Homo sapiens: one gene and its partner. The protein of the gene in region 2 interacts with the protein of the main gene of each other region in a pairwise test. Each region holds a gene or a part of one and is shown on either strand. Other genes may lie near its edges.

Region 1 (7,037 bases), about 62 Mb from region 2:
AATTTACCTAGCTTCTTTCCCAAGTAGTTTTGTGCCTGGATATTATCAAGAAGGCTTTTTGTTCTTACCTCTTTTATATGATTGCTAATACTACCAATCTCTTCATTATATAATTTTCCACTTATAACTAACCTTTCTCATAGCCTTTACTAATGAAGTTTTTTTTTTTGCTATAAATCATACTTCAGTAAATTTAAGGATACAAAAGAAGAGAGCCATCAAGCAGTCACAATACCAGCATTAACCTAAGTCTATAGAAGAAAGGAAAGAGAAATGAAAAGGCAAAAATAATGTCACCCTGGCTCAGACTTTTAATCCCTATATGTAATTTCTCAGTGTATACTATTGTGTTTTTCCTACTGCCCCTTTCCTATTTATCCATATACAGTAGTATTCTCTTTTAGTTCCTGTATTTGAATGTCCAAAATCCTATAAGTTGAGAGTTGTAAGTGACCCTAAAGATCATATAGAGCTTCTTAACCTTTTTTATGACATTAACCCCTTCTCAAGATAAGAGAAGTTTTAATATTTAAATAAATAAAATGTGTAGGATTACAAAGAAAACAAATTATATTGAAATATAGCTCAGGTAAAGAACCCCCGAACCCTTCATTATACAGATGAAGAAACTGAAACCCAGAAAAGCTGCGATTTGTCCCTTTGAGCACTCTAATCTGATAGTCTTCTCTGTCTACATGGACCATAATGTCATCTTTAACTGGTTTTTTTTTAGGCCCTTGTCCTGATTGGATAAACAAGATAATATTTCTTATGATTTAGAATGCAATGTGTAAATTTCAGACTTTGCTACTTATTTGCAAACTTCATTTAGATAAAAATTAAACTGGGTGATTGTTTTACCTCTGTTTAGCTCTGTCTCTCTTTTTCCTTCTTACAAGTGCCTTGAATACAAAGTCTTGTTAGACCAAAAATAAAATCTCTGTGGCGCACACCTGTAGTCCCATCTACTCTGGAGGCTGAGGTGGGAGGATCACTTAAGCCCAAGAGTTGGAGGCTGCAGTGAGCTATGATCGTTCCACTGCACTCCAGTCTGGGCAACAGAGTGAGACTTCAACTCAACAAAACAAAATGAAAACAACAAAAACAAAGCAAAAGTTAACTCCCTAATCTTCAGTCTCTCTAGTGGTGCCACAATGATTTTATTATAATTCAAATTTGTGCAGTCCACTTTAGGGTTAAAATCCTTCATCATTTTCCCTAAAGCTGGGGAAAAAAAGACCTGGTTCTAGAGCACTCCAGGCCCTTCATGTGGGACCCTGGCTGCTTGTCCAGTCTCTCATCTTGTACCTTCCCACATTGCACACTCTGCTTCAGCCAACTGACCTATTTGGAGAATTCAAATCCATATTACTGTCCATCACCTCTGTATCTTTACACACACTCTATCCTCTGGTGAGCCGTCTGTCTACCTACCTTTCTTCACCTGCTCAATTCCTTCAGTTCTCAGTTAAAGCAATAACTGTTTTTAGCGAACCCTTCTTTCACCTTTCTCCTGAGCAAATTTAATCACCCCACTCTACACCCTTACAGTACTTATAATGTACAGTTGTTCTTATGCTATTTTACAGTGAATCTACATGTCTCTAGATTGAGAGTTTGTTGAAGGTAGGGATGGTGTTTTTTTTTCATCTGTATCCCTAATACTAAGTACAATGCCTCTGAGCATGGTAGAGGCTACATAAAAGCTAAATAAAGAAAAAGGTAGGATTTTATGTCCCAATAAGGTAGCAAAGGGAATTTTCCCTCCAAATCTTTACATTCCACTTCTATCATCTACAGTGTCCAAGTCAAAGACATACTAATATTTTTAGGTGGTTTACATATCATTCTTTTTCATTCTGTCTGAGCCTAGCTGTAATGAAATATATCAGTTGACATCCTCTATTTTGTTTCCCACATTAGCTCTACACATATTCATTAGAATTTGCTTAAAGAATTTGATTTTTAACCATTTCTAGTTATTTATATGAAGTAAAGGAATTCAACTTTTGATCGGACCGTTGGATTATAAGCTATATGAGTCAGTTTTTTTTTTTTCAAACATTGTACTTTAGTCCTTAAGTGTATATTCCAGTTGAGTACTAAATTATAGCTGCTTGTAACTTGGCTTTTACTAAAAATGTGTTTTATAGCTTCTCTAAAGATCAGATTGGGTTTTACACCTCCAACCCGATTACCTTTAGTTTCTGCTGGTTCCTATTGAATTTCCAGGATTCACTGTGAATTAGTGTTAGGATGAGGGGCTGAAAAATTGCCTGATGGCTATGGCAATGAATTGTACTCTCTTAGTCACTGAGAATTCCGTATAAGTCAAAAGATCTATCTCACTCCTTTTTTGTTCCTAGTTTTCATTTTGTAACAGCTAGCCTGTTTTATAGAATTTAAGCATTTATGGTCATTTTTAATCTGTGATTATATGAGATGGTTTAGAGCAGTGGTTCTTAAACTTTAGTTCATAGACCAGCAGCTTGTGAGCTTGTTGGAAATGCAAGCTCACAGACTCCTATCCCAACTTACTGAATCATGATCTCTGAAGATGGAGCGCAGCTGTGGTTTCACAAGCTGCCCAGGTGTTTCTTTTGAGTGTTAAAGTTCAAGACCCACTGGTTTAGAAGTTTGGATTGCAAATTTTTACTGTAAAAGACCAAATTATTTTGACTTTCCAGACCATACAGTCTCCGTCACAGCTATTCAACTTTGAAATTGTAGCACAGAAGCAGTCAGACAATATGCCAACAAATGAGTGTGGCTGTGTCTCAATAAAACTTTATTTACAAAAACAGGCAGTGGGCTATATTTGGCCCAGGGGCTACAGTTTGCTGAACCTTGGTTTAAAGTACTTGAAAATGTTTTAAGGATAGTATAGAATGAAATAAGTGGACATTATTGTGCATTCTTATGTTAATACATTAACTGAGTTATTTGTTACTTACTTTCCACATAAATTTTTTAAAGTAAAATTTATCACAAACCAAAAGGATCTGACTGGGACATCTTGGTTCTTTAGTTTTGTTTCAGAGATTGCTTAAAATGAGGGACTTCAGTTTTTTCCTAATTTTATTATGTGAACCTGAAATCATTTGTATTACAAAGAGTTAATTTACAATTCTGCATAGTAACGGGGCTTTGTAATGAAAAGGATGTACAGTCTAACTCTCCCAAGTGGAAAAACAAATGGCTACTGGTTTTCCATTGTGTTCCTTTTGTTTCATATCTAGAGCATTGTGAGATTGAGGTCCCTTGAGAGACTGATTTCATCCAGAAAGAGCTGAGACTGATCTAGGGAAAATGGAAACAGGAATGTTGTATTTTTCTTTTTCAATTGCCTTCATTGAGGTCTAGGCAAAAGCCAGGTCACGTATTGTGTTTGGAGCAGCAAGTGGTCATTCCCTTTTTAAACAGTCTAAAGGGAAGTGGGCCAAAAGAAAAAAAACAACTTTCCTTTCCACCTGTTAATATGTGCTGTTAGAATGTCTCTATTCAGTTAAAAATAAATGGAGAAAAACTGGATAAACAGACTTTTAAGGAAAATATCTATTTCTGTTGTATAGTGGCTTTTAAGCATTTTTATTTTCCTGCTTTTAGAAGAGTCCAGTCCCTTCCTGCTTTCACCTTTCTTCCATATTCTCTACCCTTGTATGTCCATACACAAATAAAGAAAATGTTTAGTGAGATTAACCTGTTTGTTTTTCAGGAAAGACTATCTGAAAATAACTGTAGCTATTCTGAAAGTAAGACATTAATCATATAAAATGAAATAAATAGTGAGAAGTGTTCCAAGCCAGTTGCGTGTATAATGACTACTGTTGTGTTTTAAAGGTAGAAACCTTCCTTCGTGATGTTGCATTGCAGTAGCAGGGAAAGTCCCTTGACTCCTTCTTTTGAAACTGCAGAATAAGGGCAGGCCTGTATGTGAAGAGAAAGGATATTTCTCCTGGGAGGCTCTGCTGATAAGCACAAGGTTCCTAGTCCATTCCTTAGTATTCCATGGGAAGACTGTTGTGATTATTTCCTTTCCCCAAGAATGTGGCATGTAAATAATGAAGCTTTATTACTCTAGGTTATATATTTGTCATGTGTTCATTCATATTTATTGAATATGTACCTGAATATGTAGCTCTCCCAGAATTACAGTTTTTCAAGTTCTAAGGTTTACATTAAAAAAGTAATTTATTCTAGACACATTCCTTTGTAGTATCAATCAGTTAATATGTACATTTGTCTAATTTCCAAAGGTACTCTCTTCTGGAGAAATGATTTAAATTTTCTAATGGTCCCTCACAAGAAATAGTTTAAAAATAACAAGTTTTCCATTATGGAAATAATGTAAATTCCTGCTTTTTGTTCTCTTGTATTCCAGGCTCCACTTTACATTTTTTAAAGAAGCTGACTTGCCTGAGATTGATCACATTCGTGAAAATAGGTAGCAAAATTTGCACCACTTTCCTATACAGTAGTCCATTGACATTCTCAAAGAATTTACTCAAGACTTTTGTAACCACTTAAACAGTATTTGCCCAGTGAAGTCTAACTGAAAACATTTAAGGGCCCCTTTAGACTTTAGTGAGCCTGTTGTTTTGCTAAGGTTCATCACTTTTTTTTTTTTTTTTTTTTTTTTTTTGAGACAGAGTCTCGTTCTGTCACCCAGGCTGGAGTGCAGTGGCGCCATCTCGCTCACTGCAAGCTCCCTCTCCTGGGTTCACGCCATTCTCCTGCCTCAGCCTCCCGAGTAGCTGGGACTACAGGCGCCCGTCACCAAGCCCGGCTAATTTTTTTGTATTTTTTTAGTAGAGACGGGGTTTAACCATGTTAGCCAGGATGGTCTCAATCTCCTGACCTCAAGATCCACCCACCTCGGCCTCCCAAAGTGCTGGGATTACAGGCGTGAGCCACCGCGCCTGGCCCCAGGTTCATCACTTTTTTTAATGACATTTTAAATTTCCTTCACTCAGTTTTAATCACCATCACTGTAAATCGACTTTGTTTTTGGTGCCAATTTAGAGCAAGAAATATAGCTTTTCTCACTGCATGGGAGTTACTGTGTATGTCACCATGAGTAGAAAGCACAAATCCTGAGCTTAGGATCAGAGGCTTTGGAGTCACTTGGTCTTGTTCACTGGTGATGTGGCTTGCTTCCATGTACCAGTGGGATTCTGATTCATGCTTCAGAAAAGTGACAAACGTTTATGTATCCCATATTTTCAGTACTCAGGGAAGCAAGGCACTGCCAAGATACTGCCACAGGACCACTCTGCTTAGGTTATGCTTTATATATTTTTAAGAAACCAAATAGTTCCTTCTTTTGACCCCTCTCAATTAAAATTCTAGCCCAGACTTTCCCTTCAGGATCTTACAGTGCCACCAACCCCAGGCCCATATTATGGTTCCTTTCATTATCATATTATTATAGCATCAGGAGCTAGCTGGTCCTTTCCCTGTATATTTCACTGAGACTAGCTGGTGTTTATTCATTCAACAAATATTTGAATGCCTAAATAAATAAATATTTGAAGCACTGTTCAGATACTTGACATACAGTAATGCACAAACAGACCTATATGCCCTCACAGAATTTATATTCTAGTGGAGGGAATGTAAAACAACCTATCTGTTTTTGTCATTGTACTTTCAGTTCTACTTTTTGACAAAGGCTTATTTTCTTAGATTACTTTTTTGCCCTTGTTTACTCATTTCCAAAAAATACTTTTAGACTTATTTTAATATTATTTTGCCCTGGTCATTCTTTCATTGATTTTATATAGCTCTTAATTCTTTTAACTCTGAAGAAGGAGCCTCCTTTCCTTGTGTTCTAAGGTGTGTTTTTTTTTTTTCATGTCCTTTCCATCTTAGGGTACCCAGACTGGTTAAGCAGAAAAGGAATTGATTATAAGAGTAGCAGGTAGCTCATAGAATCGCCAGGTGGGCTAGAATTCAAGCTCAGGCTGTAAGGAAACATGCTACAGCTAAGATGCTGGCACAGGTATGGTCTACTTGGGAACTTATAAGCAAGGGATTTCAGTGAGGACAACTCTTGGATGGAAATTATCCAGGATACTTCTTAACCTGACACTAGATAGTTGGTTGATCCTGCTGGAACATGATACCATATTGAGGGCTTAAGGTTGGTTACTGCTCTGCTTCTGGCAAATGAACTACTCAGCAGTAGCCAGATCACCCCAAGAAGGAAAAGTCTATGCTATTGGATCTGGGCACTCTTCTGCCACCATGGCCGTTTTGTTCCTGAGCCTGTTAAGCCTATACTGGTGCAACTAGAGAAAAGGCTGATTGACATCCACAGAGTAGATTATTTAGTCTACACATTTAAGAGCCTCCTCTGTCTTGGGGCCTTTGGGTTTGCATTCACATGCAAAAAAAATTTTTTTTGAGATTATAGGCCCATTTTGGAGAAGTCCAGTCACACACTGCTTTTCCGGACTCCTAATACCAGTTCTGTAGAACTCTTCCAAGCTCTTGTTGCTTGCAAGTCCCTATCTTGTTGTACCATTAGCTATAGCCCATGAATCAATATAACTTCTTACCTGAGACCATCTTTCTACTGATAACATAGACAGTGATTGAAGTTCTGCCTGCTAGGGCCACCTCTGAATGGAGTTATAATCCTATAGTAGCTCACTTACAATAGCTGGGGCCAGCTATTGTAAGCCAGGCTGTAATTGTTTCTTCATGAGTCATTTGGTGAGAGGGAACTCTGCTTGAAGACGTAGGTGTGTTTTAAGGAAAGAATTATAATATGGCAGAAGCAGGCATTCTGAGAATGCAAGCAATATGCTACTTTCCCGTATCTTTGAGATCTATCCAGCCACTTGAAGATGGAATGCAGTTGGTCCCTGACATCATGAGTAGGTGAGTTCAGTAACACTCAATTCATGAGAGGTAACTTGACCTGATGATCTCTAGATGTTCTCTCCTGTTTAGTTTCTATGAGGAACTAGTAGCAAAAGCCAAGGTCCCTTTTAATTATGTAGGGTTAATCTCCTCATCTGCACTTGTATCTT
Region 2 (7,812 bases):
TATTTGTAAATCTGGAAACCCTATGAGTAGTAGTTTGTACAAAAGTAGTGAAAGGCATTACAGATAGAGAAAACAGCATGTGCACACAGCATGAGCCCAGGATGAGAGGCAAGCGAGAAGCCATTGGGTGGGAAAGTGCAAGTACTTCTGGAGACTGGAAACTAGGCTGGTGGGGGGTGCTGGGGAGGTGAAGCTGGAGAGGTCATGGGGGTCAGGGCTGAGTCTTGATACTATCCTGGAGGTTGGGCTTTTTCCTGTGGACAAAGAGTGTGTGAGAATTTTAATCAGAGAAATAGTCCATTTGATATTTTTATTTCTATTTAAAAAGTCATCTTAAAATATGCCTTTTATTTTTAGTTCTCTTCTTTCTAAGAGGTGGTATACAAGTCTTCATTTATTTATATAAAAATTATATTTATAGGCATGAATATATTTATAATATAAATTATAAATTAATTAATGTAGTAATAAATGAACAAAAATTGTCAAGCCCAGTTTGACAGAACCTCGCCTGGAGAGTGGGCAGGTGTGACTGTCTGAGTGGAGGGGCGGGGACGGTGACCTTGGCCTCCCAGTTTGGGGCTCCGCTGAGGGTGTCTTCCTGGCTGCTTACGATAGGAACTGATCCTAGGATGGCCTAGTAAGAAATTACAGGGAGCAGAGTTTCCCTTCAAGGAAGGAAGAACATTCTAGTGGATTGTCTGAACTTGGTGACTATATCCCAAACAAATAAAAGGGATGCTCCGTTAGCTTCTGTCAAGAATGGTGCAGAGGACTGGGTGCGGTGGCTCACCCCTGTAATCCCAACACTCTGGGAGGCTGAGACAGGAGGATTGCTTGGGGCTAGGAGTTCAAAACCAGCCTGGATAACATAGCAAAATCCCATTGCTCAAAAAAAAAAAAAAAAAAAAAAAAAAAAAAAAGCTAGGTGTGGTGGCCTGCATCTGGAGTCCCAGCTACTTGGGAGGCTGAGGTGGCAGGATTGCCTGAGCCCAGGAGGTCAAGGCTGCAGTGAGCCAAGGTCCTGCCACTGCGCTCCAGCCTGGGGAACAGAGTGAGACTCTGTATCAAAAAAAAAAAAAAAAAAAAGATGAAGAGGTAGGGGTGCTTACTCTAAGAAGAGATGAAGAGATGGGGCTGGAATTTGCCTTCAACTCCAAATTTTTAAGATGCTTCCCAGACATTCCCAGACTTCAGTTAGCAGGTCAGGCCAGTTCTTTAAAGAGTTAGAAAGGATCAGGATTACACATCTACAGAGGCAGAATGCAGAAGAAGCTTGTCCAAGTAAGAGCATGACCAGGTTTCAAGGCATCTGACAACGAATACCACTTTGGCCCCTTCAGACTTGCCTGGAAGTCTAAGGATGTGCCTCGAGTGACCCTACATGCTGAGAATTCACACTTCTGAGCTAGCAGGGCAGCCGGGCAGGCATTAATAGCTCTGTTTCACAGATGAGAACACTAAGACCAGAGAGAGGAAGTGCGATTCCCATGAGTCGCCCAGCCAGTTAGGAGCAGAGCTGAGGCTGTAGCCTGTGTCCACTGACTGTGGGCCAGCATGCTTTCCTTGGCATTGCCCCTGACCCACAGATACCCAGCTTCAGGCGGGAGCTCCCTCCCTAGTGCTGCTGGCTGAGGGAGAGCGAGCTGAATGTATCTTTGGAGAGGATGGCAGACATCACTGATGATATGATAGTGGAACACAATGGGAGCTGTGGCTGGGAAGGCTCCCCTCCCAGTTTTTCCAGGAGAAGCCAGGAAAAAGCTCTGCGTGTGGGAAGAGGCCACCTGGGAGGCACCTGGGGGGGCCCTCTGTGACCCTCTGTGGAGGCTGAAGAACTGAGAATGCCTCCTGAAGCTGGTGTTTTGAAGCAACAGAGGACGAACTTTCAGGCTTCATGCATGGGCATCTAGCAGTGTGGGAAAAGCAGAACTTCTGGGAAATGAGAAACATAAGTTAAAGCTGCATTTTGCCTCTGTTTATTTAAGCCATTCAAAAAGGAGGGAGGATATGTCTCCTGGCCCACAGTTCTCATACTCAGGAACCCTCATATCTGGGAGCTCTGTCATGTCAGTTGCATGTTTAAAGGGCCTTTGTTCTAGAACCTTCTGCTGTACACACAGGAGTGCGTGCACACACAAACACACACACACTTGCCATTAGGAAAAGGGGGACTGGATTTTGAAGTGCAAAGAGTTGACAATAAGTAAAAGGACAAAAGTACTGTATGTACCTCTGCAATACAAAGTCTTCAGGCTGTTCTGCCTGGTGCTGTTATGCAGCATGTGAATTTCCCGAGAGGACGGGGGGCGGGTGGTCCCTCTCCCACATCCCAGGAATGGATTAAAGTCTCTCGGTGGGACTGAGGTCTTAGGGTCCTTCCTTTCCAGCTGGGTCTGGGAGGAGTCAGGAGTGCACTGGATTTAGGATTTGGGGTCTTCTCCCATCACTCCCTGTTCCACGGAGAGACAACTGTGTTCCCAGCAGGGGTCAGTAAAGCAGTAGGACCACTAGGGGTGAGTGGGGGAGGTGGTGACTGGAGGTGATCAAAGTCTACTCGGAGTGACCAGACATAGGCGAGGTCTTCCCCTGAATGGATTTGTGAGATTTACTCCTGACTTGGGACTTCCAGGGCAGTCACCTGGACGAATTTCCAGCATTTAACCGTGGACAGACACAAGTCCTCCTGCCATTCGGGAAAACTGAAAACGTGAGTGAGCGGTCAGCTAAGCCTGGGTTCAGAGGTGAGAGGATGTTATCTGCAAACATCCATCTTTGCAGTGAGCAAACAGACGCATTTGGCTTGAGGTGGAGGGCCTGGCCCTAGGAGACAAAAAGACCCCCTACCAAACAGCATTTTTCTCTAAATGCCCCTTGAATTGAGACACAGTTGCCGGGTCTCCTGCGGTCTTATTCTCTGTGAGGAATGTCTTCCTCAGCTCCACAGGCCGGCCTCACCAATTGTCTTGGGATTAACCCTTGGCCATCCCGATCTTGCTCTCTCTTCTCTGTGTTTTCCTTCCAGCCTCCATGTCACCTTTTGAGTGTCAAGGCATCTTCCATTGGCCACGAAATGACAGAGAAGTCATCCATCTGCAGAAGCCTCCTGTGTGCACCGTGGAATCACCGTGTCTGTACGGGCACGAATGCTTTAAGAAAACAGCCCTGCTTCTTCACAAACTCTAGTCATTTCACTTGGAATCTGTCCATCAAGAAATTAGGTTTGCAGAGTCCAAAGCAAGCTCCCTAGAGCTTTACAAACAAGCTGGCGGGCAAGGCAGCGCGCCCTATAGTGTCTCTGTGGAGCGCTAAGATCTGTGACCCCTTTGCCACATGGGGTGTGCGCTCAGACTGGGCTATGAATATATCAGCCTCTCTCCACCCGCACTTAGGGACAGAAGATATGGAGACTCCAGGAACTTCATGAACTATTTGCTGTGGTCTTCTGTCCCGGGATAGTCCGGGTCTCACTCCCAGCTCTCCAGAGCTTAACCCTCCCTCTCAGGGGAATGTTTGAAACCTACGAAGAATTCTCAGGAATTCGAGGTAGAAGGTGGCAGAGAGACTTCTGTTCCTGGGGGCCGAGCTGTTGTGCTGATACCGTCCTCTTGGCGTCTGCCCTAGTGGGGACCCTTGATTTTAACTTGAAGTTCCTGGACTGGGTCTAACCTTAGCATGTGTGCCTGAGTGATGGACTTGGTATTTACACCAGCCACGCTGATAAGTGCACATGTGTTTTTAATGTTTTGGCTTTCCACACCACAAACACACAGATGTGCTGTCGCCCGGGCTAGGACTTGAGTAGGGTTTTTCTATTTAAATATATATTATATATTTAAAAAAGTGTCCTCCCAGAGCTAATACCGTTGCTAGCAGCTCTTCCTGCCGCCACACCGGGCAAAGTCCACCCACTGCCCCAGTGTTGAGGGCCACCATGGGCGGCCCCACCTGGAGAGGTGCTGCTCACAGCAAACAGCTCCAACTGCGCCTTCGCCTCGCCTTCCAGGGAGCCCAGCCAGGCCCACTGGGTATTTACAAGCAGACCTCCCTCGCTTCAGCCTTCCTGAACCCCTGTTAGTTGGGAAACCACCTGTCTGCACCGCAGCTAGAGAACCGAGGAGAGGAGCCGCTAGTCTAAAGGGCTGTTGGTTGAAATTAGGAAGCAGTGTAAAGAAAAAGAAAAAAAAAGTTTGGGAGGCCAAGGCAGGAGCATCACCTGAGGTCAGGAGTTCGAGACCAGCCTGGCTAACATGGTGAAACCCCGTCTCTACTAAAAATACAAAAAATTAGCGGGGGCATGGTGGCACGCGGCTGTAATCCCAGCTACTCGGGAGGCTGAGGCAGGAGAATCGCTTGAACCCGGGAGGCGGAGGTTGCAGTCAGCGGAGATAGCGCCATTGCACTCCAGCTTAGGCAACAAGAGCGAAACTGTCTCAAAAAAAAAAAGTCTTCATAATTTCATGGGTTTGCAAGTATGATCCAGGCTCCCCGCTTCTCTGCAAGCCAATGCGAGTTAATTACAGCGTCCGCCCTGGTCTCTCTCCACCCCACGCCGTGATCCATTCCCCTTCTTTTTCTCCCCTTGTCTCTTTCCTCCTCCCCCTTTTATTTATGTATTTTTGGTTTTGTTTTTTAAGGGGTGTTGAGCCGCGTCTGGTTCTAGTAAACCGAACCCGCTCGCGAGGGAGGCGATTGGCTCCCGCGCCGGTGACGGACGTGGTAACGAGTGCGGCTCGCCCCGCCGGGAGCTGATTGGCTGCGCGGGGCGGCTCCGAGGGCTCGGCCGTAGGAGCCCCGCGCACTCCAGCCCTGCAGCCTCCGGAGTCAGTGCCGCGCGCCCGCCGCCCCGCGCCTTCCTGCTCGCCGCACCTCCGGGAGCCGGGGCGCACCCAGCCCGCAGCGCCGCCTCCCCGCCCGCGCCGCCTCCGACCGCAGGCCGAGGGCCGCCACTGGCCGGGGGGACCGGGCAGCAGCTTGCGGCCGCGGAGCCGGGCAACGCTGGGGACTGCGCCTTTTGTCCCCGGAGGTCCCTGGAAGTTTGCGGCAGGACGCGCGCGGGGAGGCGGCGGAGGCAGCCCCGACGTCGCGGAGAACAGGGCGCAGAGCCGGCATGGGCATCGGGCGCAGCGAGGGGGGCCGCCGCGGGGCAGCCCTGGGCGTGCTGCTGGCGCTGGGCGCGGCGCTTCTGGCCGTGGGCTCGGCCAGCGAGTACGACTACGTGAGCTTCCAGTCGGACATCGGCCCGTACCAGAGCGGGCGCTTCTACACCAAGCCACCTCAGTGCGTGGACATCCCCGCGGACCTGCGGCTGTGCCACAACGTGGGCTACAAGAAGATGGTGCTGCCCAACCTGCTGGAGCACGAGACCATGGCGGAGGTGAAGCAGCAGGCCAGCAGCTGGGTGCCCCTGCTCAACAAGAACTGCCACGCCGGCACCCAGGTCTTCCTCTGCTCGCTCTTCGCGCCCGTCTGCCTGGACCGGCCCATCTACCCGTGTCGCTGGCTCTGCGAGGCCGTGCGCGACTCGTGCGAGCCGGTCATGCAGTTCTTCGGCTTCTACTGGCCCGAGATGCTTAAGTGTGACAAGTTCCCCGAGGGGGACGTCTGCATCGCCATGACGCCGCCCAATGCCACCGAAGCCTCCAAGCCCCAAGGTAAGGCTGCCTCCTCCCACGTGCGCGAGCCGCCCCCTCCATCCCCCGGCCGGAGCTGCAGGAGAACCCGCGCCACCCTACGCCCGCCCGCCGCTGGGTCCCGGTGCTGGGGACTGAGGGCCCGAGGTTGCTCGCATGCTGTGCACGTGATTCCTAAGCGCGTCTGGTCTGTCCCAGGTATCGCTCAGCGCCCCTCGCGACCCAGGTGCACGGCGGGGCTGGCCCGGGAGCGGCAGCTCTGCGCCTTGGCCTCGCAGGGACTCGCTGTGGTCCCCGGAGCCGCTCTTCCTGGGATCCAACTTCGCCTTTCCCATACCTGAAACAAAGCCTTGCGCTTTAAATAACAGGGGAGCTTCCCTCTCCTCTAGGAGGACTCCGAGTCCCTATCGAAGTTTTTAACCTCTGAGACGGGAGGAAAAAACAAAAACCCAAAGCGTAGAAAGTTCAGAAAGGCCGAGAGAATGCTTGGAGCAGCTTTTGTTTATTTTCATAGGTTCGACAAAGATTTAAAAAATAAAACCAAGCCCTTTCCTTCACTGGTCATTCAGTCAAGTAGCCTTGGGATTGCTGCAAAACTGGCTGAGAAAGTTTAGGAACCGTGGGGACTTCTGTTTCTCCACCCCTTCCAGGTACCAGCTCTGCCCTCGGAGGGCTGGGGGTGGAAAGTCTTTTCTCCCTCCCTCTAGCGTACCCCCTGCTTTTCTCATTTACACAAATCCTCAGCTCATTAGAAAGATAAAAATGTAATTAGCTCATTGTTCATCTCCTCCCGGGGAGAGCAGCTCTGCAAAATGCAGACTTTCCTAACAGCCTGAGGGACCGGCCCGAGGTTCCTCTCAAAACCCCCTTATGTTTAAAGAGCAATTCTTGAGGGGGAAGAAAAAAAAATCCTGGGAAGTCAAATAAAATGAAATAGATATAAAGATAAAATATACACATCACAGACCTGACTTCTATAGAAGTAAATTCAACCCAGAATTCTTTAGAAGCGAAGTTTAGGCTCTGAGGTGTGGAGAGGGTCAGGGATTGGGGAGCTGTACCCCAGCTGCGCTTAGCACAGACGCAGGCTTCCTGAGGGCTTTTTGAGGAGGGCCTTTAGGGTGGGGGAGAAAGACTGCCTACACTTAGCTCACCTTAAAGTGTCTTTAACCTCTGTTATTGATGCTAAAAGAGGGGAGTGCAGTCACCTGGCTCCTCAGAGTGAGGATTTGGGCAGGTGGGGGAAAGGGATACCCCAAATTTTAGATGCTTTTGCTTATTCTAGGGAGGGTGGAGATGGGTCCACAGTGACTGTCGTTGGATGGCTGGATGGGAACGGCACTGATTGCCCGCAGTGGCCAGGTCTGGGCACCGCTGCTCTCAGAGTCAACTCTGGTGTTGGGAGTGGAGTGAGGGTAGCGGATGCATCTGCACTTTGTGAGCGAGAACTGAGCAGTTACCTGGAGCAAACAAAGCGCCTTGTGTTCTGTTGGCTTGCACCCATCCCCTGCAGCCTGCGGGAATTTCCTTCTCCCCTTCCTCAGCCAGCGGGGATTAGCCCAGCCCTGCCCTGTGAGGCTGTGCCCAGCCCTGACCTGGAGTCCATTCCCAATGGCTTCCGATGGTCTCTTTCTGGGACCGTCTGCAGACATGAGTGGACACCTTAGGGGGCTCGGCTGCGGAAAAGGTGCTGCAGTCCACAGGGAACATGGGGGGATTGGACGGGTTGCCTGAAGAAGAGAGGAAAGAATCCCTCACCCCAGCCCCCAAAAGGCTGTGATGGGATGGGGAAACCCCATAATCGCTGTCTTCCGGACACCTTTTGCCCCTTGGCTGCAGTTCCACTGGTCGGCGCCCTTCTCAGCCTGGCTTGGAACCGTCCTCACTCACCTCCACTCCTCCCAGCAGCGCTCAGGTAGTCACCCTCCCAAGACAGGTCTTTGAGGAGCAAAGAGAAAAGTGGGGAGAGGGCCGGTCGGGAGTGGGGCTTGGGACTGGTTTTCCCCTCAGTGGTTTTGGTGGGGGGCTCTGCCCTGAGATGGCACACCACCCTCCCCAGGACTGCAATCCCTGGTGTAAGGGAGCCCCACGTGATTTCCTGCGAGGTCCCTGTGGAGGGGAGGGTGGGGCGTGTGTGTGTGTGTGTGTGTGTGTGTAGGTGTGTAGAGGGCAGGTCAAG

What was found.
Region 1: the proteins of SFRP1 (region 2) and FZD6 interact in binary tests that used the Homo sapiens proteins (3 or more experiments, as listed by UniProt).

Annotation. Positions count from the first base shown.
Region 1 is NC_000008.11:103,301,880-103,308,916, forward strand, and holds part of FZD6 (frizzled-6 isoform a precursor), read left to right. Parts: intron 1-7,037. UniProt on the Homo sapiens protein: Receptor for Wnt proteins.
Region 2 is NC_000008.11:41,306,458-41,314,269, reverse strand, and holds the start of SFRP1 (secreted frizzled-related protein 1 precursor), read left to right. Parts: upstream 1-4,796; 5' UTR 4,797-5,110; coding exon 5,111-5,654; intron 5,655-7,812. UniProt on the Homo sapiens protein: Soluble frizzled-related proteins (sFRPS) function as modulators of Wnt signaling through direct interaction with Wnts. They have a role in regulating cell growth and differentiation in specific cell types. SFRP1 decreases intracellular beta-catenin levels.